Linked DNA regions of Homo sapiens: region 2 is linked to region 1. The links come from fine-mapping of genetic effects on gene expression. A gene starts in region 1. The other region holds a variant in brackets. All regions are shown on one strand. Distances are between the middles of the regions.

Evidence for each region. PIP is the estimated chance that this variant, and not a neighbour inherited with it, causes the effect. A credible set is the group of variants that fine-mapping cannot tell apart.
Region 2: its variant is the best candidate, but not a certain one, in a credible set for the expression of KMT5B in prefrontal cortex (ROSMAP, PIP 0.54).

What each region holds. Positions count from the first base shown.
Region 1 is chr11:68,207,315-68,219,900 of GRCh38, reverse strand. KMT5B (lysine methyltransferase 5B) reads left to right here and starts at 6,605. Exons shown (of 11, transcript NM_017635.5): 1 at 6,605-6,763. RefSeq lists silencers at 4,145-4,439, 5,624-5,763, 5,874-6,313, 6,899-7,368 and an enhancer at 5,225-5,927.
Region 2 is chr11:68,158,264-68,169,868 of GRCh38, reverse strand. It overlaps KMT5B (lysine methyltransferase 5B), which reads left to right. Exons shown (of 11, transcript NM_017635.5): 10 at 2,691-2,887; 11 at 10,698-11,605. Among named protein-coding and RNA genes, the nearest start is that of CHKA-DT, 42 kb to the right of the region's middle. The variant A/TTA (reference allele first, on the strand shown) is at 6,826.

The sequences.
Region 1 (12,586 bases):
AATGTAATGTTTCTGAAATTCATCTATGGTGTTTGTAACAGTGGTCCGTTCCTTTTTATTTCTGAACAGGATTCTATCACATGGAGAGACCACAATTTGTCTACCCATTCTTTTGGTGGTTGGCATTTGGGTTGTTTCCAGTTTACAGCTACTATAAATAAAGCTACCACAAATAACTGTAAAGGAGGAAATAAAGAGAGTGGGAGGGAAAGAGAGAAATAAATAGAGAAAGAGAAGAGGAAGAAAGAAAGGGTGGAAGAAGAAGAGGAGAGAGGAAGGAACAGACACCAAATGAACAAAACTAGGAACCCAAAAATCCATTCTGATATATATATATACACATATATATATACATATATACATATATATACACATATATATACACATATACACATATATACATATATACACACACATATATATATACATATATACATATATACACATATATATATACATATATATACATATATATACACATATATATATACCAGAATATATATATACCAGAATATATATATATACCAGAATATATATATATAAACCAGAATATATATATATATACCAGAATATATATATATATATGTGTGTGTGTGTGTGTGTGTGTGTGTGTGTGTGTGTATATATATATAAAATGTGGTGAGGAATGATGTTCACATCCCCTCAGTGAACCTCTCCACAGAAAACTTATTTATGACAATGGGCAAGCAAGTGACCTGACGATGGGGAAGCCTGGACACCCCTAAACCACATGACGGGTAACCCAAGTGGACATCACCCATAATGGGTTAAATCAAAACTGCTTCAGTTGTAACATCTCATTTTTTTGATTTTGTTTCTTTTTTTTTTTTTTGAGATGGAGTCTCGCTCTGTCACCCAGGCTGGAGTGCAGTGGCATGATCTCGGTTCACCGCAACCTCTGCCTCCTGAGTTCAAGCGATTCTTGTGCCTCAGCCTCCCAAGTAGCTGGAACTACAGGCACATGCCACCACACCTAGCTAGTTTTTGTATTTTTGGTAGAGAGGGGGTTTCTCCATGTTGGCCAAGCTGGTCTCAAACTCCTGACCTCAAGTGATCCGCCCACCTCGGCCTCTCAAAGTGCTGGGATTACAAGTGTGAACCACCACACCTGGCCAGAAATTATTAAAAAATAATAGTAATAATAAAAAAACAAAGCTCCCCGTGCCCATGAGGAAACCTTTGCCAGCTGCTGTCAGTCCTCTCTGTGTTTGCTTCTAGAGAGGGCTGGTTAGGGCTGAGTTTTATTTGGGGGAGGGGAGATGAAAAGGTGTGTGATGGGATCCCAAAGGAACAACATCCTCAGTGACAGGGAAATTTTCTTGGTGCCTGTCCCACTGCCCCAGGTGGGTGCTGAGCACACAACCCCCAGGGCACCCGTGAGCTGGAACGCTACACATCTTGTGGGGTGGGTGGTGGAGAAGCCTTGTCAACAAAGCAAGATTGAGCCCCCAGAATTTGGGGAGTGATTACAGAGCCCCTTGCACCTCCCTTTATCCTTGTAGCAACCCTGGAAAGTTAGTATTATCTTTCCCTCTTCCTCCCTCCCTCCCTTCAGCAAAAGCATAGAAGCCTCAACACTCTGTCCCCAGGGGTGGTTCCAGATGCTGAAGACACAGCAATGAATGAGACAGACAAAGCTCCCTGCCCTTGAGAAGCTGATAGTCTAAAAGGAGAGTCAGCCCTAGGATGAATACTGAAAGATACAGAATGCTAGAGCTGTCGTATGTGCTAAGGAGAAAGAACCCTGAAGCCACAAAGGAAGAATGAAAACTAGGTCTTGGCCGGGCATGGAGGCTCACGCCTGTAATCCCAGCACTTTGGGAGGCCAAGGCAGGCGGATCACCTGAGATCAGGAGTTCGAGACTGGCCTAGCTAACATGGCAAAACTCCATCTCTACTAAAAATACAAACGTTAGCCGGGCGCGGTGGCACACGCCTGTAATCCCAGCTACTCAGGAGGCTGAGGCAGGAGAACTGCTTGAACCTGGGAGGTGGAGGTGGCAGTGAGCCGACAGTGCACCACTGTACTCCAGCCTGGGCGACAAGAGTGAAACTCCGTCTCAAAAAAAAAAAAAAAAAAAAAAAGAAAAAAAAAGAAAGAAAGAAAAAAAAAAAGAAAACTATGTCCTGGACCTGGACCTGAGTGGTGGAACGGTACCTGTTTGAAGAGGTGGAAGGGTGTGTGAGGAGAGGGTTTTGCTTTCGTGTGTCCCCCAGGTTAGCCGTGTTATATTTGAAATGCCTATTAAGCATCGAAGTAGTGTTGTCTGAAGTTCAGAGAAGTCCAGGCTGGAGAGAGAATTTGAGCATCTGAAGCACATAAACAATTGTAAAGCTATAGAGGAACTTACTAAGACAGGTCCAAGGAATGGACATTTTCACAGGTAAAGGAATGGTGGGCTGACAGGCTACATCATTTGTCCCAAATCCCATGGCTGGTAAACTGCAGAGCTAGGATTCAAACCCAGGTCAGACTCGTGCCAACCTCTGTTGGCAGCTGCTGTACAGTCTTGCTGCTGTTGACCAGGGGTCTCGTGTGTGTCACTTGACCTTTCAGTGGCTGTTTCTTTTTCTTTTTTCTTTTTTTTGAGACAGAGTCTCAAAAAACAGGCTGGAGTGTACTGGCATGATCTCGGCTCACTGCAACTTCTACCTTCCGGGTTCAAGCCATTCTCCTGCCTCAGCCTCCTGAGTAGCTGGGATTACAGGCATGCGCCACCACGTCCAGTTATTTTTGTATTTTTAGTAGAGACGGGGTTTCACCATGTTGGCCAGATTGTTCTCAAACTCCTGAGCTCAGGTGATATGCCCACCTTGGCCTCCCAAAGCGCTGGGATTACAGGCGTGAGCCACCACGCCCGGCTTCAGTGGCTGTTTCTTCTTCTATTCAAGGACAGTGGCAGTGGAGGGGCAGGTGGAAAGCAAGAATGGTGCCGGGGGTAGTGGTGCTCAGGAATGTGACCAGGAAACCCGCCAGCCGCCCAGAGGGGCCACTGGGAAAGCCGGGTACGCCCCACTCTCCCTCCGGTTTCAGACACCTGCTCCCATCAGAGGAGTCCTAGCTTCCGGGCGGGGTGGGGACTGGGGCAGACGCATGTGCGGAGCACGAAAGCCAACATATCGCTTTACAATGAAAAGCAACCTGCCTCCAGCCTGGAATTCTGGGGTCAACGTGACCTGTGGGCCATCCCAGTAAGCACAGGATCAAAGCAAGTGAATCCCTGCCATCCTGTCACTGAGTGAACCTGGCACTCGAGGAAAGGGAGCGAGAGAGCATAGCAGGGTGGGTGGCACTAGGCTGGAGTGCCCCTGGACACACCAGAGCCAGACCTGCTAGAGAGACCAAAATAGACTCCATGGCCTCAGTCAGTGCCCTGGCAAGCGTGCCACTCCTAGGCCAGCTCCGGGCTAGGCTGGCACTCCTGGCCAGCCTCACGGTGCTTCCGGGGCCAGCCGGGCCCCTTCCGCTGACTCGGTCTTTCTTTAGAGCTGTTAATCCCTTTTGGTCCGGCCAGGCTGGGGAGGCCCCCCAGCCTCTGTGGCTCAGCTCTTCCACTTTGGGGTGCCTAGAGCTCTCCCAGTGTAAATGCCAAAGGCTCCTGACACACAGGACTGGGCAGGTGCCTGGCTGCCTACTTCCTGCTCTCCCTCCCCTGCCAGCTGGCAGGAGGAGCCTCCAACTGGCCTCTCCTGTGGGAGTCTCCCTAGGAAGGGCTCTCCTGGGCTGTGCTCTCAGCCCAGCCTAGCCCTGGCTTCCCTGAGTGGGGACCCCCAAAGGCCTCAAGCCCCCTGCATGGCTCCACCAAGGTCCTGAACCCCAATTCAGCTCTGCCAGGAGCCCTGGCCCACCCTGGGCCTCTCAGCTGAGGCTGGAAGAGCAGCTGGCAACGTAGGGGGATTGAGGGAGGAATGCACACAGAACTGGGGGCCTGGGAGCAGGCTGGGCTTGGGTTTGCTCATCTGTATCCCTGCCAGGCTGTGGGCCCAGCCTTGCAAGGAAATGTCCAGAACACTTGACTTGGCATCAGGCAGTGAACACATGGAAGTGTCTGCATCTTGGAAGTATGGGGGCTTCACAGGACTCAGGATTTGGCGTTCACCCTGAAGGGCACATGGAGAGCACCTCTATGCTGGGGTGGGCTCTGGAAAGCTGGGAGTGGGCAGGACATCGGCTTTGGGGGCTCTGGAGGGCTGCTCAGGCATAGCTGGACTTGGGACCTGAGACCAAGGTCGACTTAGAGGCAGATGGTATTCCCCTAGTGAGCTCGCCTCCCATAGGCATTCGGTGGTGGTGGGTGGCAAAGGCAGGCTCAGTGTTTCTGGGGTGCAAGTTGAGTATTTGGAGCCAGGCACTACGAAAATCTTGGAAAGTTTCTGATAAACCAGAAACCAAGAACACCAAAGCAATCATTTGTTAGTTGCGTCTGCAAAGACGAACGTGGCAGAGTGGATTCTGCTGCCACAGATGACGCTGCTTTTAGTGAAAGGGCAGACAGGAGAAGTGCTTGGGCTGTGCCCACCGCCCACACCCGAATCGGCCTCCAAAAGGAGGAAGCTGCTGATAGGGCAGGTGAAGGCAGTGGGAGGAGCTCTGTTTTGAAGATGAGACCCGCTTCTGCCTCCGTCAGCCATGTGCCCTCAGCGAGTCACCGTGCCTCAGTTTCCCTCTGTGGAAGGCGGTAATGAGCATCATGTCTACCAGCCAAAGTCAAGGTCGAGAATGAGGGCAAACGAGGGAGGCGCTGTGCGTCAGTGTTACTTGGACTTAGTCCAGTTCTTGTGTTGGGTGGTCGTCCACAGCCTCGATTCATCATCCTTTGTGGAGGATGATGGCCCTGGAGCCGCAGGGGAAAACTAAGGCAGGCTGCGGCTCTTCCTGGCATCTGACTGAGCTGCCTGCCCTGCCCGCCTCCTCTCTGTGGCAAGGGCAGCCTCTCTCCCCTCCCAGGGCTTTGACACTGGCTGGTCCCACTACCCGCCCATATCCTAGGCACCCCCTTTCCCCAACACGCTCCAATTCACACTCCAGGTCTGCGCTTCCTTGGGCACCTGCCGGCACCAAGTTCCAGGCATGTGCACGCCTATGCCAACCTCAACTTCTTGGAGGTCCTCCGCACCCGCTTCCTGATTTATTCTGCATTTTTCACCCGAATGCTGAAAGAGGGCTCTGGCTCAAGCCCTGACTAGTTGTCATAGAGGTCACGGAACTCCCTGTGCCTCAGTTTCCCTAGGTGTAAAGTGGCACCCACATGGCCCCCACCTCCGGGGGTCGTCCTGACGCGTGAGAGGGAGGATGCGCGGAGACCCTGGGCAGCCCCGCAGGGGCCGGGAGCGCGCTCATCGTTCTGTTGTCTGGACTACAAGATCGATGCCCAGGCAAGCTTCGCAGCTCCCCGGCTCGCAGGCGGCCCGGTCCCTCAGGATCTCCCCGCCAGCCCGGGATCCCCGAGGAGGGATCGCACGGCCAGCGCGCAGGGCACACCCGGAGTGGAGCGGAGCACGGCGCGGGGCACATAGTGGGTGCTGGGGGCGGCGGGGCCCGCGGGGGGCCAGGCCAAGGCGCGCCCGCTCTCCTCCTCCCTCGCATGCTCCGCGCAGGAACGCTCAGCCTGCCCACACGGTCTTAGGGTGCATCTGCTGCCAGTGACCCCCATTCCCACAACAAAAACGCTCGTCTGCCCGGGGCCACCTCCCTCGGAGCAACTGGGACGCGCGGCGGGAGGGGGGGGGGTCCCCTTCCCCAGGGCTGCAGTCCGAGAGGCTGGCTCTAGAGCCGTCCCTGGTAGGGGCAGGTGTGCAAAGACCCAGGGCCCGGGACAGCTGCCGCGGTCCCGCGGGGACCGGGACCGGAATGCGGTCGCGTAAGGGCCGCAGGGGACCCTAACGTGGCGCCCGCGGGGCGCGGGCGACGCCGCCTCAGCCGCGATTTAAAGGGCAGCGAGGGCGGAGGGATCCCAGCCGCCTACCGGCCGGCCGCGAATCCCTCCGCCACGAGGGGAGGCGACGGCTCGCTCTGAATCGCCCTTTGTCCCTCCGCCGTCGGGAGCGCCCGGCACAGAACTCGCTCCCCGCGCGTGCCCGCGTCCCGCACAGAGCCCCGTGGAAGCGCCGCGGCGGCTGGGCCTGGCGGGAGGCGCGCGCACACTGTGGCAGCTGCGCCGCACGGTGTCCCTCCGCCGTCGAGGCCGCGGCCTTCTTTTCGTATCCTTCCACCGTGCCCGGGCGGGGTCCAGGCGGCTCACCGGGGGCGGCGACGCGGCGGCGGTGCGGGCGGCAGGGCAGCGGGGCGATGAGGTGAGGACGCCCGGGAACCGGAGGCGGCACCGCGCGGCGCACGGACCTGGGACGCGGAGTCCTGAAGCCGGCGGACGGTTTTCGTACGGGCGGCCGTGCGCGAGGCGAGGTGAGGCCCCGGGTGGCGGGGCGCGGGGGCGGGCGCCGGGGGCGCAGCGAGCCGAGGCCGGGGGCGCGGGGGGCGCGACGGCGGCGGCGGCGGCCGGTTGGGGGCGGGGGGCTCGGACGCTGCGGGGACTCATTTTTCCCGTCAGCGGAGGGAGCGAGCGGTGCTGCGGCCCGCGCCGCCATCTTGGATTTTACTCTCCATTTTTCTCTGGAATTATTTTTGGTGATTAATTTTCTGGGGGGGACTGGGACGCGGGGCCCGGCGGCGCGGCCCCGCATCGCAGCGGCCGGGCAGCGGGGCCTGGGACGCGCCCCGAGGAGGAGCGGGGCGGCGCAGGCGGTGAGTCGGGGGAGGGGCGGGCGCCGGCGAGGGTGTGCGGGGGGCGGCCTCGGTGACGGGGCGGGCAGGGACGTGGGGGACCGCGGGCCCAGGCCGGTCGCAGGGCTCCGGGGCCAGGGCGGGTGGGGCCGGGGCCGGGCGCAAGCGGCCGGGCGCGGGGGGCGGGGCTGCGGCCGGGCCGGTGCGGGGCCGGCGCGGGGCCTGCAGTGGTGGCCGCGGCCGGAAGGGAGCGGTAGCGGCCGCCGGGCAGCGTCGGGGCCGGGCCCGCGGCCGCACGAGGGGAGCAGCCCCGCCGCTCGCGATTGGGGGACTCTGTTTTCCCTTTTCTCCAATGGGCAGCCGTGAACCGTCTCGCCCAATCTGCTCCCACTGCCGCGCTGAACTTTTTGTTTTTGTTTTGGCCCGAGCGCATTTCGGAGCCCTCCCGAGCTCGTCCTGCAGCCCACCCTCCTCCCCGACGGCGCCCCTGGCCGTGGCCCGGCGACCCCGCGGCCGCTGCGTCCCCTTTGTGCTTTATCCGCTCTCCCTGCGTCCCCTGGTGTGTGTCTGTCCTTCCACGTATTCGCGGATGATGTGCACCGTTGTCACCTCCGCCTTGGAAGGAGGAACAATGACAACTCGATGCAACTTGCTGGATTAAGATAGAAACAAGTTGGGTGCTGAGAAATTCAGTCTATTTGGGTTTATTGGACCCGGGTCTGGAACAGTAACTTAACGATTTATTAAGTGGTGGAACTTTCGGAATACTGGGGAGGTGAACATGTGTTCTTTGAAGTTAATTTTTAAGAATTTGCCAAATGAAATTTACCTGGAGTGGGGGGAGTTTTCCTTAGAATAGAGGGCAGGTGAATTAATTTGATTGATTGTGGTTCTTTGTGATGTGGACCTTTTTCGATTTAAACCAGTTTGATATAAAGTGTAGTTGAGGATGGCCATACAGGTCTGAACTTTGCTGTGTAGGATCTTTAGAGGAAGCAGTTGCCAGCTATAACTTTTTTCCTTTAGTCTTTAATATTGAGAACACGCCTATAATATTGATAATTAGTAGTAAAAAGAAGTATTTTCAAAAGAGGAGGAAACCATTTTTACCTGAAATAATTACAGATAATGTGTGCATGTTGAAATACATAAATTGCCGCTTGCTGTAAATACAGATTTATTGTGTATCTGAAGGTTTAGCAATTTGAACCAGAGGTGTGGCCCTGTCCCTCTTGGAGCGCCTTATATTCCCAGGTTAGAGTCCACAAACGCTCTAATCCCGGCTTGTGTGGGAACTCCAGCCCATTTTTCACTTTGTAATCTCTAAACATTCGACATTCTGGTCCCTCTCCCAAGCTCTGGCTCCAATAGCTTCCCATACCTGGTCCCTGTCGGCCGTGCCCTGCCCGGCATTCCTCCACCCCTTTTCTCCACCCCGTACACTCTTGTCCTTCAGAAAGGCCCCGTGAGAATGTTGCTTCCTGGTGAAACCTTCACACACACAGCCGTTGGGGTGGTTACTCGTGAGTTTTTGAGTCTCTTGTTATCTCGTCCGCCCACGGGCAGGTACAGAGTAGGTGCTCATAGACCCTTAATGAATGGGTTAATTTATTAATCTCCAAGTTGTCAAGCTTAATAGTTTGTATTAGTTTTTCAAAATAAATCCACTTTAATGTTGTTTACAAACATAATTATATTTTAAAAACTGAGCTGGAGAGTGAAGGGAATATGGTAGATATTTCTTCAATAAGAGAGTAGGGTAGGGCTTGATTCTTTATCCATGATCATTTCCAAGTGCTCTCGCGCCTTTATTTTCATCTGCTTTCCCAAACACCCTGAACTGCTCATGCAGTGAACTTTTTATTCTCGCAGCAAATGCCAGGGGACAGTAGTGGGGAAGGTGGAGGTGGATGGAGGGTAGCGGACTCTGACAGGGAGAGACGCGTGTGAAGGAAGTGTCCCGGTGTCTGCGTGTCTTTCAGCAGAGAATTTAGTGGGTGGGGGATGTTGGTGATTTTTCTCTTGGGTTATTTAAAAAGGAGGTTGAATCTGATTTTCCTTTACCTGATTATCAGTTTGTGGGTTTATAGGGCCTGGGTTCGTGGCCAGGTTGTGTGATAAAGAGATTTGTGTGTGTGGCATCTAAGCAGCTCCCTGTCCACAGGAATGCCCTTCCCATGGCTTACAGAGCAAATCCTTTCAGATAAATCGCCGTGGTCCCATTATTTCGTGTTTCTGTGTACCATGTATGAGCTTTACATTGGCAAATCTCTCCATTGGCAAAATCCTTCTCCGTGGTCAGGAGTTCCCCGACTATGTCAGCCTTAGAACGCTCTGATGGTTAAGAATCTTCCTCACACTTTTGACGATAGGGACCATGTGTCCTCCCTCCGCTCCATCACCCTGTTAGCTACAATACTGCATGTTAAGTAAATGCAGGGGGTGATCCATTATGTGTCTGGATGGGGTTGATTTGGGGCTAGCCGGTCTCCGAATGAGACAGACTTGAACACCAGGCCATCTTCTAGGGCCGTATGTCAAATGATGACTGCTGTATAGAAGTGTAATTTTAGGAATAGTTGAAGGACCATGGAATAAGAATCAATTCTTATTCCATTCTCTGCTCTATCACTGTTTGTATAAGTCATTGATAGGGCCTAGACTCCGTCTACAAAACGACTCTGAGGTCACTTCCAATCCAAAATTGTATTAATGCTTCATCTTTTACACTTCACTGCCATCCTATTTTCTCCTAATAATTATTTTAATCATATTTTGACATCTCTCTAATCACCTTAGTTCATCTGCATGTTTCATGTAGTTTTACCTCCTTTTTTTGAAATGTCATTATGAGATAGTTAATCAGTTGGGTTTTAGAATTGAGAGACTAGGGTATCAGTGTCCCCCCCCCCAAAGCTTGATTGGGGGCCTGTATGACTCCTACAATGCCAGTTGCATTTCTATAAGCTGTCTTAGTTTGTCTGTTGTAATAGCACACTAAAGAAAACAGTACCGGCCGGGTACGGTGGCTCACGCCTGTAATCCCAGCACTTTGGGAGGCCGAGGCGGGTGGATCACGAGGTCAGGAATTGAGATCATCTTGGCTAACACGGTGAAACCCCGTCTCTACTAAAAATACAAAAATTAGCCTGTAGTCCCAGCTACTCCGGAGGTTGAGGCAGGAGAATGGTGTGAACCCGGGAGTTGGAGGTTGCAGTGAGCAGAGATGGCTCCACTGCACTCCAGCCTGGGCGACAGAGCAAGACTCCGTCTCTTAAAAAAAAAAAAAAAGGGGGAAAGAAAACAGTACCTAGATCCGGGGATCATTTGCTGGTGATAAACCTCTAGGTGGTACACGTGGCTCAAGCACTGGAGTAAACCCCAGACTGCAGTTTAAAGATGAAGGTTTTAGACCCACCCTTACCACTTAGTAGCACTTTGAGTTTAGGAAAGCAATTTGTTTCTGAGCTTTAGCCTCCTTGTTGTAGTGCTAATACCTGTTTCACCTGATAGGGTTGCTGAGCTAGCGAATCCCGAGTCCTGCATGTTAGGGGAACCAGTAGAAACCGAATGTGTGTGTTGTGACACCTGTGTTTCTACCTTGTGCCACCTTTATAGGAATGCCTGGTCAGCACATCTCTAATGGCACTCGGCTTGCTTCTCAGGCCTTACGCAAAAGGCCCATTCAGTGAAGGGTCATTCTGCTTCCTAGTCTGTACTTTTCTACCCTGTTAACTTTTTTTCCCCTTATGCATCTGTTTGGTTTTCTTCCCTGACTCAACGACTGATTTTCCTGAAAGTAGAAGCTCTCATACGCCCTCTAGTGTTCCCTGGACATGACCAGTATTCCAGCACCACGAACAGTGCCTGGCAGCTCTGGGAGGTTCTTCATAAGTTTGTTGAACTGAGTGGATTCTAGGTCGGCCCGATGAATTGTTTTGCCTGTCTGATTTGTATAACACGGTTGAAATGTATGATACATTTTAATGGTCTCTGAGGAGTATTTTTATTTTCGAGGCAATGTTTATGTTGCATCATATGGAGAAATAGATATTTTTAGTAAGAAAACCAATCTGATTTTAGGAAGCTGCAGCTTTCCTCACTGAGAAGTAAAAGGGGGCTTGATCCTTCAGCCAGTGAGCCAGTGGCACCATAGGAAACCCCCCTTCACTTTCCCCCTTGGAAAGGAAACAAAACCAGACGTCATTCAGGGTCCTGGAGGGTTTAAAGCAAATATTTGTTTGGTGCATATAAATAAGTACCAGGAGGGCTTTTGACCCAAAAAAGGTATTTTTTGTTTGTTTGTTTTTGAGACAGGGTCTTGTAGCCTCCCAGGCTGGAGAGCAGTGGCATAATCCCAGTTCACTGCAGCCTTAGTCTCCTGGGCCCAAGCAATCATCTCGCCTTGGCCTCCCAAAGTGCTGGGATTATAGGATGAGCTGCCATGTCTGGTCTTGTTTTTATATTTACAATTTTGATTTATATTTCCCTGATCATCCCATCTCAAGTCCATTCTTACATTAGTCTCTCTCCTAACATCCTGTTTGTTTTTCTTACAGCTCGCATCAGATTGATAACCACATACTTACTTACATCTCTTCCCATAGTATGCTCTGACCTCTATGCAGTCAGGAACGATGTCTATTTTGCTCTAGAGTTTTACTCTTCAAATATGGGGCACAGTGGTTTTTTTGTTTGTTTGTTTGGAGACAGAGTCTCACTCTGTTGCCCAGGCTGGAGTGCAGTGGCGCGATCTTGGCTCATTGCAACCTCCACCTCCCAGGTCCCGGTTCATGCAATTCTCCTGCCTCAGCCTCCCGAGTAGCTGGGATTACAGCCACATGCCACCACGCCTAGCTAACTTTTGTATTTTTAGTAGAGACGGGGTTTCACCATGTTGGCCAGGCTGGTCTTGAACTCCTGACCTCGTGACCCTCCCGCCTCGGCCTCCTAAAGTGCTGGGATTACAGGCGTGAGCCACCGTGCCTGGCTTGGGCGAAGTGTGTTTAAAAATTTGTTTGGGGCCAGGCGTGATGGCTCACGCCTGTAACCTCAGCACTTTGGGAGGCCGAGACAGGTGAATCACGTGGTCAGGAGTTCAAGACCATCCTGGCCAACATGGTGAAACGCTGTCTCTACTGAAAATACAAAAATTAGCTGGGCGTGGTGGTGGGCACCTGTAATTCCTGCTACTCGGGAGGCTGAGACAGAGAATTCCTTGAACCTGGGAGGCAGAGGTTGCAGTGAGCAGAGATCGTGCCACTGCACTCCAGCCTGGGCAATAGAGCGAGACAGCGTCTAAAAAAATAAAAAATTTGTTTGGGTCATTATTCTGTGTTGTTTTTTGGTTTGTTTTTTTTTTTTTTTTGAGATGGAGTCTCACTCTGTTGCCCAAGCTGGAGTGCAGTGGCACGATCTTGGTTCACCACAACCTCTGCCTCCTGGGTTCAAGCGATTCTCCTGCCTCAGCCTCCCGAGTAGCTGGGACTACGGGCAGGTGCCACCATGCCTGGCTAATTTTTGTATTTTTAGTAGAAATGGATTTTCACTATGTTCGCCAGGCTGGTCTCGAATTCTTGACCTCGTGATCCGCCCACCTCGGCCTCCCAAAGTGCTGGGATTACAGGCGTGAGCCACCGTGCCTGGCCTGTGTTGCTTTTTTGTGTGATATTAACAGTACACAGTCTCTCAGCCTGGACTTCACTTCAGTTTTTTTTCTAATTCTCTGAGTTTTGTTCTCATTTGTAAAATGGGGATGATAGTATTGAGTGTGTGTTAAAGGGCAGTGATGTTTGTATCTTCTTTTATAGGGTGTGAAAATAATCTGTTTGACCAGGTACACCA
Region 2 (11,605 bases), 50 kb after region 1:
AAAATTATTCACATGTTGGTTAGATCTTGGACCAGTCCAGAGAATACCCTTTAAAGTAGTTTAATTATAGTTCAATAATTCTTCAAAATCATTTTGTAGAGGAAACAGTATAACAGTTAAGTGCCTATCATCTGAAATCAGACTGCCTGGGTTGGAATCCTGCAACTCTGCATTTCATTAGCTATGTGATGTGTAGGGTAAGTCACTTAGCTGCTTTGTGCCTTAATTTCCCCATCTGTAAAATGGGGATAACATCAGAACCTATTTTGTAGGGTTGATGTGAAGGCTAAATTTGTTATTTCCTGTAAAGCATGTAGAATAGCACACAGTTAATACACAAATGTTAACTACAATAATTGGTTTCTGGTTATTTTCCCATTAGAATATGAGCTCCATGAAGGCAGGGGCTTGTATCTGTTTCATTTTCCGCTATATCCCCAGAATACAGAACAGTACCCTGGTGCATAGTAAGTCCTTGATAAATATTTGGTAAATGAATGAATAGAGTAAATATATATAATGAAGTTTTTGGAGGCGGTCCTGAAAACACCTAACCACATACTGAGGATTCCAAACCAACACCGAAACAGCTCTTTCCCTGGTTTAGAACTGCAGGTATAGTCATTTTCCTTGAGCAGATTAGTTCTCTTTCATGAGCCTCTGTTTTCTCACTGGTGAAAATGAGGATAATCCCACCTACTCCACAAGGTTAGTGTGAGAAGTAGATAGAAACGTGTGTAAGTCCTTTTTAAATGGAACAGCATGATGGAGAATAGTGGCCATGGCTATTGTCAGACTGTTTGAGCAGTTTGATTTCAAGATTGGCTGCATATATTCTTGAAGTTCTCATAAACACCAAATTGTTTCTGCCTTTACAGAAATTAGCTGGGAAGATGCATCTAGGAGCTCATTCCATTATTCATTACATATTAACTGAACAGTTACTTAATGTTAGGCCAAGTGCATGCAGGATAAACAAGACCAGCACAGTGCCAGCTGTCAGGGCAGTTCAGTGAAGGGGACACACACACTGTGCTGAGAGCCAGAGGGTAAAAGGAAGAGGCTCCGTGAAGAAGTGAGAATGGACGGAATCACGTGTGCAGAGACACTGAGTCGCGCTAGACACTCCAGGATACATTTGAAGCATGTTTCTCTGCTACACTGTACTGACAGTAGTAATTGTAATATGTTCATAAGTACTGCACATTTTACTCTAGAAAATTTAAAGCAAAGGCCACGCACGTGTGACTCACGCCTATAATCCCAGCACTTTGGGAGGCTGAGGCAGGTGGATCACCTGAGGTCAGGAGTTCGAGACCAGCCTGGCCAACATGGCAAAACCCCGTCTCTACTAAAAATACAAAAATTAGCCAGATGTGGTGGTGCGCGCCTATAATTCCAGCTACTCAGGAGGCTGAAGCAGGAGAATCGCTTGCACCCAGGAGGCAGGGGTTGCAGTGAGCCAAGATCGCACCACTGCACTCCAGCTTGGGTGACACAGCAAGACTGTGTCTCAAAAAAAAAAAAAAAATTCTAATAACAAAAAGCTCCTATAAGCTTATAGGGAAAAGACATAGTCAAATAGGAAAAAAGGTAAAGGAAAAAGAGATGCAGAGATGCTTCACAGGAAAAAAATGGCCATAAATGAGATTAAAACAAGATTAGGTATTCATTTTCACTCATCACTTTGGCAAAAAGTAAAATTTTTTTAGACGGAGTCTTGCTCTGTGTAAGTTTCGATCTCAACTCACTGCAACCTTCACCTTCCAGGTTCACGCAATTCTTCTGCCTCAGCCTCCCGAGTAGCTGGGACTACAGGCGCCTGCCATCACGCCGGGCTAATTTTTTTTTGTATTTTTAGTAGAGACAGGGTTTCACCATGTTCACCAGGATGGTCTCTTTATCTCTTGACCTCGTGATCTGCCCACCTCAGCCTCCCAACGTGCTGGGATTACAGGTGTGAGCCACCATGCCTGGCCCACTTTGGTAAAATTTAAGGAGTACAATGTACCGTTGATGAGGATGTGGAGAAGCAGGAACTCACACCATGCTAGTGGGACCATGATTTGCTCTATCCCTTTGGCAAAGTAATCTGGCAATGTTTATTAAAGGGCTGGACTTTGTGGCTCACGCCTGTAAATCCAGCACTTTGGGAGACCCAGCTGGGAAGATCCCTTGAGCCCAGCAGTTGGAGACCAGCCTGGGCAACATAGTGAGACCCCATCTCTACAAAAAAAAATTTAAAAATTAGCTGGTGGTGGTGCTACACGCTTATGGTCCCAGATACTCAGGATGCTGAGGTGGGACGACTTCTTGAGCCTAAGAGGTTGAGGCTGCAGTGAGCCATGATCGTGCCACTGCATTCCAGCCTGGGCGGTAGAGTGAGACCCTGTCTCAAAAAAAAAAAAAAAAGGAAAAAATTTTACAAGGTCCAGTAGTTTCTCATAGGCAATTAATGATTGATAATAGTCATAACAAGTTGTTTTATTATTTTAAATATAGATTTAAAGTTAATTTTATAATATAGATACTTAATTTCCTTTGTGAGTTCTAGTCTTCGGTTTCCAGTGGTGATTAAGGCCTCAGCAGCTCATCACATCTGTTAACCTGTAGCCAAGTACCCTCAGCAGTTAAGCTTATTATAAGAAAGTGTGTTCTATTTGTTTAACCTGTGCTATTTTCTCTTTCAGACGGGGCACTGGTGCTTTTAAATCCAGAGTGGGACTGCCTGCGCCTGCTCCTGTTATCAATAGCAAATATGGACTCAGAGAAACAGATAAACGTTTAAATAGGCTTAAAAAGTTAGGTGACAGCAGCAAAAATTCAGACAGTCAATCTGTCAGCTCTAACACTGATGCAGATACCACTCAGGAAAAAAACAATGCAAGTAAGTAAGGGAGATTTGATAAGCATATCTTTTAAAAGTATTTTCACACAATTTGCTTTATAAAGTGTGCTTCAGTAGTTTTAAACTTTTAAATACTCAGAGAGACTGGGACTTGTGAGCTTTGGCTGCACTTCAAGGCTCTAGACGTGATTTGAGTAGAGGCACAGTCTGTATCCCATCTCTAACTTCAGTACCGTCCTCTAGACTATTTTTCTTGAATACCTTGGTAACTGGATATGAGTTCTTCATCATATGTTCCAAGGTCATCATATGTTTTAAACATTTTCAAGGTGTTAGAGACTGTGATGATGTCGCTAAGTCCTGCAAGAAGACAAAAGGACTGAGTAGAATTAAATTAGACTCTATACATTCCAGTGCCTAGCCAGTTTGTTAGAAAAGATGATGGACTTGGGGAATTCATAGCTTCTGGCCTTAAGGCTTCCACCTTTTCATTGCTTGCTGACCTTTTTCAAAACGAACTGACTCAGTTCAGCAGACCACCAGTACCAGACTCAGAATTGTGATAGAGGAGCATTTTGAACAGTGCCGTATTGTGACATGCTGTATTGGCTACTCCAGAAAGTAGGAGTAAAGATGGAAAGGAGAAAGAAGCAACCTCTGAGATTCCAGTGGTGTGTGGGGGCAAGATCTGATGGAAACTGAAAAAGAGAACGAAGACTAAACAAAGAGAAAGGAAAGAGAAGAAACCCTAAATGGGCAAAGGAAAGCACATCCTGTTTGCGGAGCTTTGAAATATTGGAACCATTTCTAATTGCTCCTGTTTTTCTGGGTAACACCAGTTTTCTGTAGTTGCCACTAAAGCAGTAGACTCTTGAGTCTCACTTGTCTCTGAGAGAGACAGAAGTTAGAAAGTTTTGACTTGGCGATTCCGAAAGTATGCCTTTGTTGGCACTTAAATGTCCAGTGAGACTTCTTGGCACCTTAGAGCCCTCTGAGATACTGATTATTTTAGGTTCTTCTCCCTACTTTCAGATGTTTTCAGCCCAACACTGGGTGCTCTCTTCCACTACAGAGAATCCTGAAGAAAAGGGAAGGTGTTTCCCATGATGGTGAATGTCACTGCCATGAATTCCTGAATCTACCTGCTGCTGGGAGTCAGAGTCCAAGCATAACCCGTGTAGCATAAAAGCAGCGCTGTAGCCCTATTCCAGTCTTTTTCGTTAATGTCCAGAGTGAACAACAAGAGTTAGTCAATCATTAACTGTTGACTGTTGATTCTCATAATAAATGCAGCATAACGACCATTTGTTTTCTGAGTCTGGTTCCTTGGTGAAACTGGAGACTTGTGAAGCCCATTTTATAAATGCAGACATAAAAACACTTAAAAGCCAGGCATGGTGGCACACCTGTAGCCCCAGCTACATGGGAGGCTGAGGTGGGAGGGTCACTTGAGCCTAGGAGTTTTGAGACCTGCCTGGGCAACATAGTAAGACCTGTGTCTTTTTTTTTTTTTCTTTTGAGACGGAGTCTCGCTCTGTCCCCAGGCTGGAGTGCAGTGGCACACTCTCAGCTCACTGCAGCCTCTGCCTCCCAAGTTCAAGCGATTCTCCTGCCTCAGCCTCCCAAGTAGCTGGGATTACAGGCACGTGCCACCGCATCCAGCTAATTTTTGTATTTTTAGTAGAGACGGGGTTTCACCATGTTGTCCAGGATGGTCTCAATCTCCTGACCTCAGGTGATCCGCCTTGCCTTGGCCTCCCAAAGTGCTGGGATTATAGGTGTGAGCCACTGCACCCGGCCAGAGACCTGTGATTTTTAAACAAAAACACTTAGGTTCGTGCTGCCATCTGTATATGGAGACAGCCACAGAGTTGCCTATGTTGAATGGCTATGTGATGTAGGTGTTTTATGCTTAAGTAGTAACTTTATTACTGGTGTATAGCTACTGAACTCAATATACTACTTAGTTTAAAAGATAAGAATACAAATAATTTTTGGAAGATGTTGGGTGTACTAATATTTAACTATTAATATTTATTAAACCAAATATTTGGGAATATATATTAACAAACTAAATACTTACTGAAATCCTGCTAGTTCTTGAAGACATACAAAGATGTTTGAGACTTGGGCCCTTTCCTCAGGGAGCTTATGCCTTACTTAGCTCCAGGATAAGACAGGTGCACAAGTAAGCAGAACAAACTGGAGGCACAGGCTTTCAAGTTCAGAGGGACTGAATAATCGCTTTAAGCTGAAGTCTCAGCATTACAGAAGAAAGGTGTACATTTTGCAGGGACTGCTGATATTGGGGTGCTTGGCTTATTCAAATTCCCTTTCTGCAGCATGATTGGAGCAATCCAAGGATCAGTATGACTAACTCTGAGGTCATGGGCAGAGTGGATAGGCATGGCTCAGTGCTCTCTCTGAAGGAGCTCAAGGCTTTAGTTGTCTCTGAGACCATTGTATGTTAAGTCATGTTCACATAAGGATTTCTTGAGTTCTTACATGCGTTCTCTTAGGCTGTATTTCTTTTGGTGTTTGTCTCAGCCATCCCCTCCACCTGTCTGAAAGAAAGGTTCTGGAAGCCACATCCTGCAGGAAAGCCAGCACTGCCAGTCCCTCCTCCCAGGGTGGTGGGTGCATGTGCTGTGTATGTGTTTGCGGAGTGCTTTTTCTGTGTGGCTGCTCATCTTTATCATGTGGTTCGTTTAGAATTTAGCAGCTGACAGAGGAACTGCTTTCTTTGAACACATGTATAAAAAAATGTTCTGAGTAGTTGGAAGAAAAATTTCCATACAGGTGCTTTTTCGGAAAGTACCTTGAGAGCTATGGTGTGACTTTGCTTTAGCATCCAGAAGTAGAGACAACAAGGAATCCGTTTTCACAAATCCAGTCCACAGGTCTGAATTAGAATGCCAGGACTGGAGGATTCTGGTTTTTCAGGCCTCTTATGCCTCGCTGACTGGGCTGCCCCCTCTGAAGTTAGTGCTGTGATAGGGAAGGTGAGACCAGAGAGAGGCTCGCGAGCGGTCTGTGAAGATGCGGACACGGGTCTCTGCAGGTGCCACAAGTCAGGACAAGCCCCAGAAGAATCGGCCAGAGGGAGAAGTTGATCTTAACTATGGAGCACCTGTCCTAGATGCAGAGGCTGGGGCGCTGCTCCTCACTCCTGCCCTGTCACTCATGTCAAGAGTTGATCTGAACACTTTTCTGCTGAGCCTTCGGGCTGCTTCCAAATTCTAACACCCCGTTCCAGGTAGCCATTGGCAGTCTGTGCTAGTCATGTCAGATGAAAGCTGCTTGTGCCAAGTAAACTCCTTGAGACCGAGGTCTTTAAAGTCCTGTCAGAGGCCTTCTGGATCCTCCAGCTCTGGAGATGCTCAGCTGTGGCCCTTGTATTATCTTAGTTCACGCTGATTGTGCATTTCCAGTGCGGCCTGAGTGCTCAGGAAGGCTTTGGTGTCGGTCACAGCTCTTTTGTCTGACTGGAAGTCTTGTGCCACCCTGCCTTATGATTTTGAGGACACCCTGAAATGACCATAATAGCCATGCAGTGGGGCCTTTACCCGTAAGTTGAGGCCAACACCATAATTCTTCTGTATATGCCTTATAGGCAGCATAAGCGTGATTTTAATGCTCAGGAAGGCCTAACAAGTCCCATCTCTGCCATTCACCAGCTGGATGACCTTAGGCATGCTAGTTCGTGTAAGCTTGGTTTTCACATAGCTTTAATCGCTTTCCCTTCCAACGGCGTTCATTAGGATGAATGTGGCCATTTTGCACAGCACCTAGCATGTAGTAATTGCTGAGAAGAATGTGTACCCCCACCTAAAATTACAGTCCAGGTCCATGTATTTGAGATTTGTCCCAGCCCCTAGGGGAAGAGTCATACGAGGCATATAAGTGCCACAGCAAGCTCAAACACAGGTGCATCTGACCCCACTTAGGTCATAGTCCTTGGTTTCTTGATGGACTTT[A/TTA]AAATCATTGACTTTTAGTTTGTCATTGTGGCCACTGTCTTCCTCCTTTAGCCTTCACTGTCTGAAATTCTCAACCCCTGCCAGGACAGTGCAGCTTCTTTGGACAGTGAAGGACTCTTGTCACTCTACTGGGTCCTCATCTTTGTCACATTTCTCAAATTCTTTGCCTGTCTTTTTTTTCCTTTGATTTGATGAGCATACCTTTTGACAGGGCTTTTGATGAGATAATGCTTTTCAAACAAAATTAGAATACATTGGTAACATGTAAGTGAAATCTCTGTGTTGATGTAATACATAGCATCAAATACATACCCATTTTGTGCTCAAAAATGGAGCGTTTATGTTAGTTTAGAGACAAACACATAAAAGTGCTTTGGTTTTCTGTTGTCAACAGTGAATGTTTTGGAAGGAGGGATGGGATGGGGAGAGCCGAATTCAGAATCACCATAAAATGGGAGTCATCCAACGGGTGAAAATAAGAAGTACCAAGGAAGGAGCTTCTTGGGTGCTGTGAGAAGACATAGGAAAGGCATTGCAGAGAAAGTCCCGAGAGGCTCCCTCAGGGAGGTGTTGCCTAAGCTGAGTCTTACAGGGGGATGAGAAGTTGGCCAAGTGAAGCCTATTCAAAGCAGAGGGCCTTTCAGACAGCTCTATAGACAGAGGGGAGTTTGAGTCAAAGCTTTTCTTCATGGCGAGTACAGGCTAAGAAGAAGAGATGTGAGCACAGGTTAAAATTCTAGACTTCATTCTTAGGGCATTAGGTTGCTGAAAGGTTTAAAGCCCAGAAGCTGCATGATACACTAGGAAAGTCATCCTGGCTATGTGGTGGTAAACGGATTGTTGGGAAAACAATAGGAAAAACAAAACTGCCATAGTTCATGCAGGAGGCTGTGGCTTTCGAGACAGGGAAGAGTAGACAGGTTGCAGTGACATTGCAGGGGTGGACTCCACGGCACATGGTGATTGGCTTGGTGAGGCAGTTCAGGAGAGCAGGAGTCAAGGAGGACCTCCAGCTTTCTGCTTTGGCAGCTGGGCATGTGGTGGTGATATTGACCAAGATGGAGACCTCGAAAGGGGACGTCGTCAGGAGACTTGATGGTGAGTTCCATTTAGGGGCTTAGAGACAGTCAGTATTTGGTGACCTGGTTCTGTAAGTTAGGAGCGGGTCTGGCCAGAGTTCGGGAACTGTCAGCCTGTAAGTGGTAATAGCCGTGCGAGAATGGGTGCTTGTCACCTGGGGCCTAGGACTACACAGACCTGAAGAAGAACAGTCTAAGGGGCCGATGAAGGAGGGTGCCAGGGATGGAGAAGGGAACCAGGAGAGTGCGCTCTCTTTGACAGCCAAGAGAAGAAAGGTTTTCTCAAGAAAAAGTGGTTATCAGTGTCACATTCAGAGAAATGAAGAAAGGGAAGGGCTGAGGAGTGTGTGCTGGGTTTGACGACAAGAAGTTGTCAGATCACCAAAGGCTGTCTCATTGGAGGAGCAGGCTGGATCCAGATGGCGGGGATTGCTGTTGAGAATATGACATAGATGTGAGTGTTGTGTAAGGGTGCTTGCAGGTACGTCATGAGAGTGGAATGGAAAGAGGAGAAATCAAAGGTTGGAAACCACTAAGTTTGGTCATAAATTAGTCCTTGAGGAGGCATAGAATGAGCAAAGGATCATCGTAGCCACATCTGAGAGAGCCAAGCAAAGGGAAGCCAAGCAGTGCAGTCCTTTCTTCACTAGTGTCTTTATATTGGCAGCACGTCCATTCAGTCCACCTTGTAGGCAAGCATAAAGAAACCCTTTAGCCGAAGAGTTCCCTATTTTTTCTTATTTTCTAAATTTCTTATTAAAAAAAAATTTGCTATCACATAGTTCTGTATAGTTCCAGTGGATAATAAATCACTCGTTCTCAAATTGAATCACATTCAAAGTTCACTACTCCTACTATTCTAAAAAGAGGCGCCACCTTGGTAGCAGCCCACATGTGTAAGTATGTTCTTGTTTCAAACTGTGAATCCCTTTGCTGTGAATTCTGCTGGTTTATGTACCCTGAAGCCATTTATGAGCCAGTCTGTGCGTGCAGGACCTTCTTTGTTTTTGTTTTTCTGAGAGGAAGTTTCACTCTTGTCACCCAGGCTGGAGTACAATCGTGCGATTTTGGCTCACTGCAAACTCTGCCTCCCAGGTTCAAGTGATTCTCCTGCCTCAGCCTCCCCAGTAGCTGGGATTACAGGCACGTACCACCGTGCCCGACTAATTTTTGTATTTTTAGTAGAGACAGGGTTTCACCATATTGGCCAGGTTGGTCTCGAACTCCTGACCTCAGGTGCAGAGCCTTCTATTCTTGGTGGTTTGATATTTTTGGAATGTTGTGATGCATTCTTGCTCCTCTCTCAATAAAAACTGAACTTATGGTAACTTACTTGCTTAGCTGGGCGGAAGGAATGGCAGTTGCCCTGGCAACCTGAGGCATGTAGAAAGCGACAGATTTCTCTGCAGGATCCTGGTCCTCACTTGGTTGGGCAGTGTGCTGAGCTTACCCATGTTTTATTGTTTTTATCCTCCCTGTTCTGATGAGAGGTGGTGATGATTCGTTTTGTTATCGTGGCTTCTCTAGTGAATCTGTAAATGGAGTGTTTTGATTAGGAAGAAGTTTTTCAACTGGACCTGCAAGAACTAAGTAATTGAGAAACTGACTTGTGTAACAACTTCTATAAATAATAGTCTGGAATGTCAATACAGAGGAAAAATTAACATAGCAGAAAGTCAGTGGCAAGGTCAGAGACACTACAGGAGCAGCTTAAGCTTGAGTCACAAATGAAGCCTTTTGAGAAGCCATTCAACTTTATTCTTTATATTGACAGCACGTCTATTCGATCCACCTTGTAGGCAAGCCTCGTAAGCATAAAGAAATTCTGTAGCAAAAGAATTATCTAAATATCCTTATATTTTAAAAAATATTTTCTACCTAGTAGTTCTGTATAATTCCAGTGGATAAGAATACGCTCATTCTCAAATGGAATCATATTCATCACTACTCAGGTTGTCATTACCATTAGGGTCATTGTAACCCTTTTCTATCCTGGCCTTGGAGGAAAGAAGTTGGATCTCCCTTTGTCCTGAGAGTGTACAATTCTAGCAGCGTGCATCTTCCTTCACTGTGATTGTTGGCATCTGGCCGTCACTGAAGGGATGGGGCTGAGTAAGCTTTGCAGCTCTTCTAAGTTGACAGCCCACTGGTTGCCTCTTCTGTTCCTCACGGAGTTGAAGGGGACAACTTAGAATAGTGCATTTCTTTTTCGGTAGTGACTGTACTTTTCAGAGTGATAATATATGGTTCTTAGCATCTGTTTTTCTTGTTTGAAACCATTGCGATAGAATTTGTTCCTTAGAGCCCATGAGTATTCTATTTCTACTCTATGTTAATGGCCAAGTGCTGTACTTCCTTTAGGTTAATGAGCAATGGATTTTAGAAACATTTTAAATGACTAAGGAGAATCTGTGAAAGGAAAAAACCATGTTAACTTTCTTTGAAATCTTTTATGTGGGAAACTACTAAATCAGGAGAAGAAAGCGTTCGTTTGGGCCAGTGTCACGACAGATTAAGAAGCTTAGAGTGGAATCTAGGTCCCTGCTGTGAAAAGCTCCTTAACCGTGCAACTACTTACCTCAAAAATGAATAGATGCCCCATAAATTAGAAAAGAACTTCAAAGAGAAGCAGTGTAGGGAATGCAGGTGCGCTGGCAGAATCTGCAGCAGGAGCCGTGGTGTTGGCGTTTGTGTAATCTAAACGTGCTGTAGCTAATAGCCTGGGTTTGGGCATTCTTTTCTTGAACTCTGCTGTTACCAAGGCTTTTCACCTTTTTCTCTTTAACCTTACAGCTTCTAACCGAAAATCTTCAGTTGGCGTAAAAAAGAATAGCAAGAGCAGAACGTTAACGAGGCAATCTATGTCAAGAATTCCAGCTTCTTCCAACTCTACCTCATCTAAGCTAACTCATATAAATAATTCCAGGGTACCAAAGAAACTGAAGAAGCCTGCAAAGCCTTTACTTTCAAAGATAAAATTGAGAAATCATTGCAAGCGGCTGGAGCAAAAGAATGCTTCAAGAAAACTCGAAATGGGAAACTTAGTACTGAAAGAGCCTAAAGTAGTTCTGTATAAAAATTTGCCCATTAAAAAAGATAAGGAGCCAGAGGGACCAGCCCAAGCCGCAGTTGCCAGCGGGTGCTTGACTAGACACGCGGCGAGAGAACACAGACAGAATCCTGTGAGAGGTGCTCATTCGCAGGGGGAGAGCTCGCCCTGCACCTACATAACTCGGCGGTCAGTGAGGACAAGAACAAATCTGAAGGAGGCCTCTGACATCAAGCTTGAACCAAATACGTTGAATGGCTATAAAAGCAGTGTGACGGAACCTTGCCCCGACAGTGGTGAACAGCTGCAGCCAGCTCCTGTGCTGCAGGAGGAAGAACTGGCTCATGAGACTGCACAAAAAGGGGAGGCAAAGTGTCATAAGAGTGACACAGGCATGTCCAAAAAGAAGTCACGACAAGGAAAACTTGTGAAACAGTTTGCAAAAATAGAGGAATCTACTCCAGTGCACGATTCTCCTGGAAAAGACGACGCGGTACCAGATTTGATGGGTCCCCATTCTGACCAGGGTGAGCACAGTGGCACTGTGGGCGTGCCTGTGAGCTACACAGACTGTGCTCCTTCACCCGTCGGTTGTTCAGTTGTGACATCAGATAGCTTCAAAACAAAAGACAGCTTTAGAACTGCAAAAAGT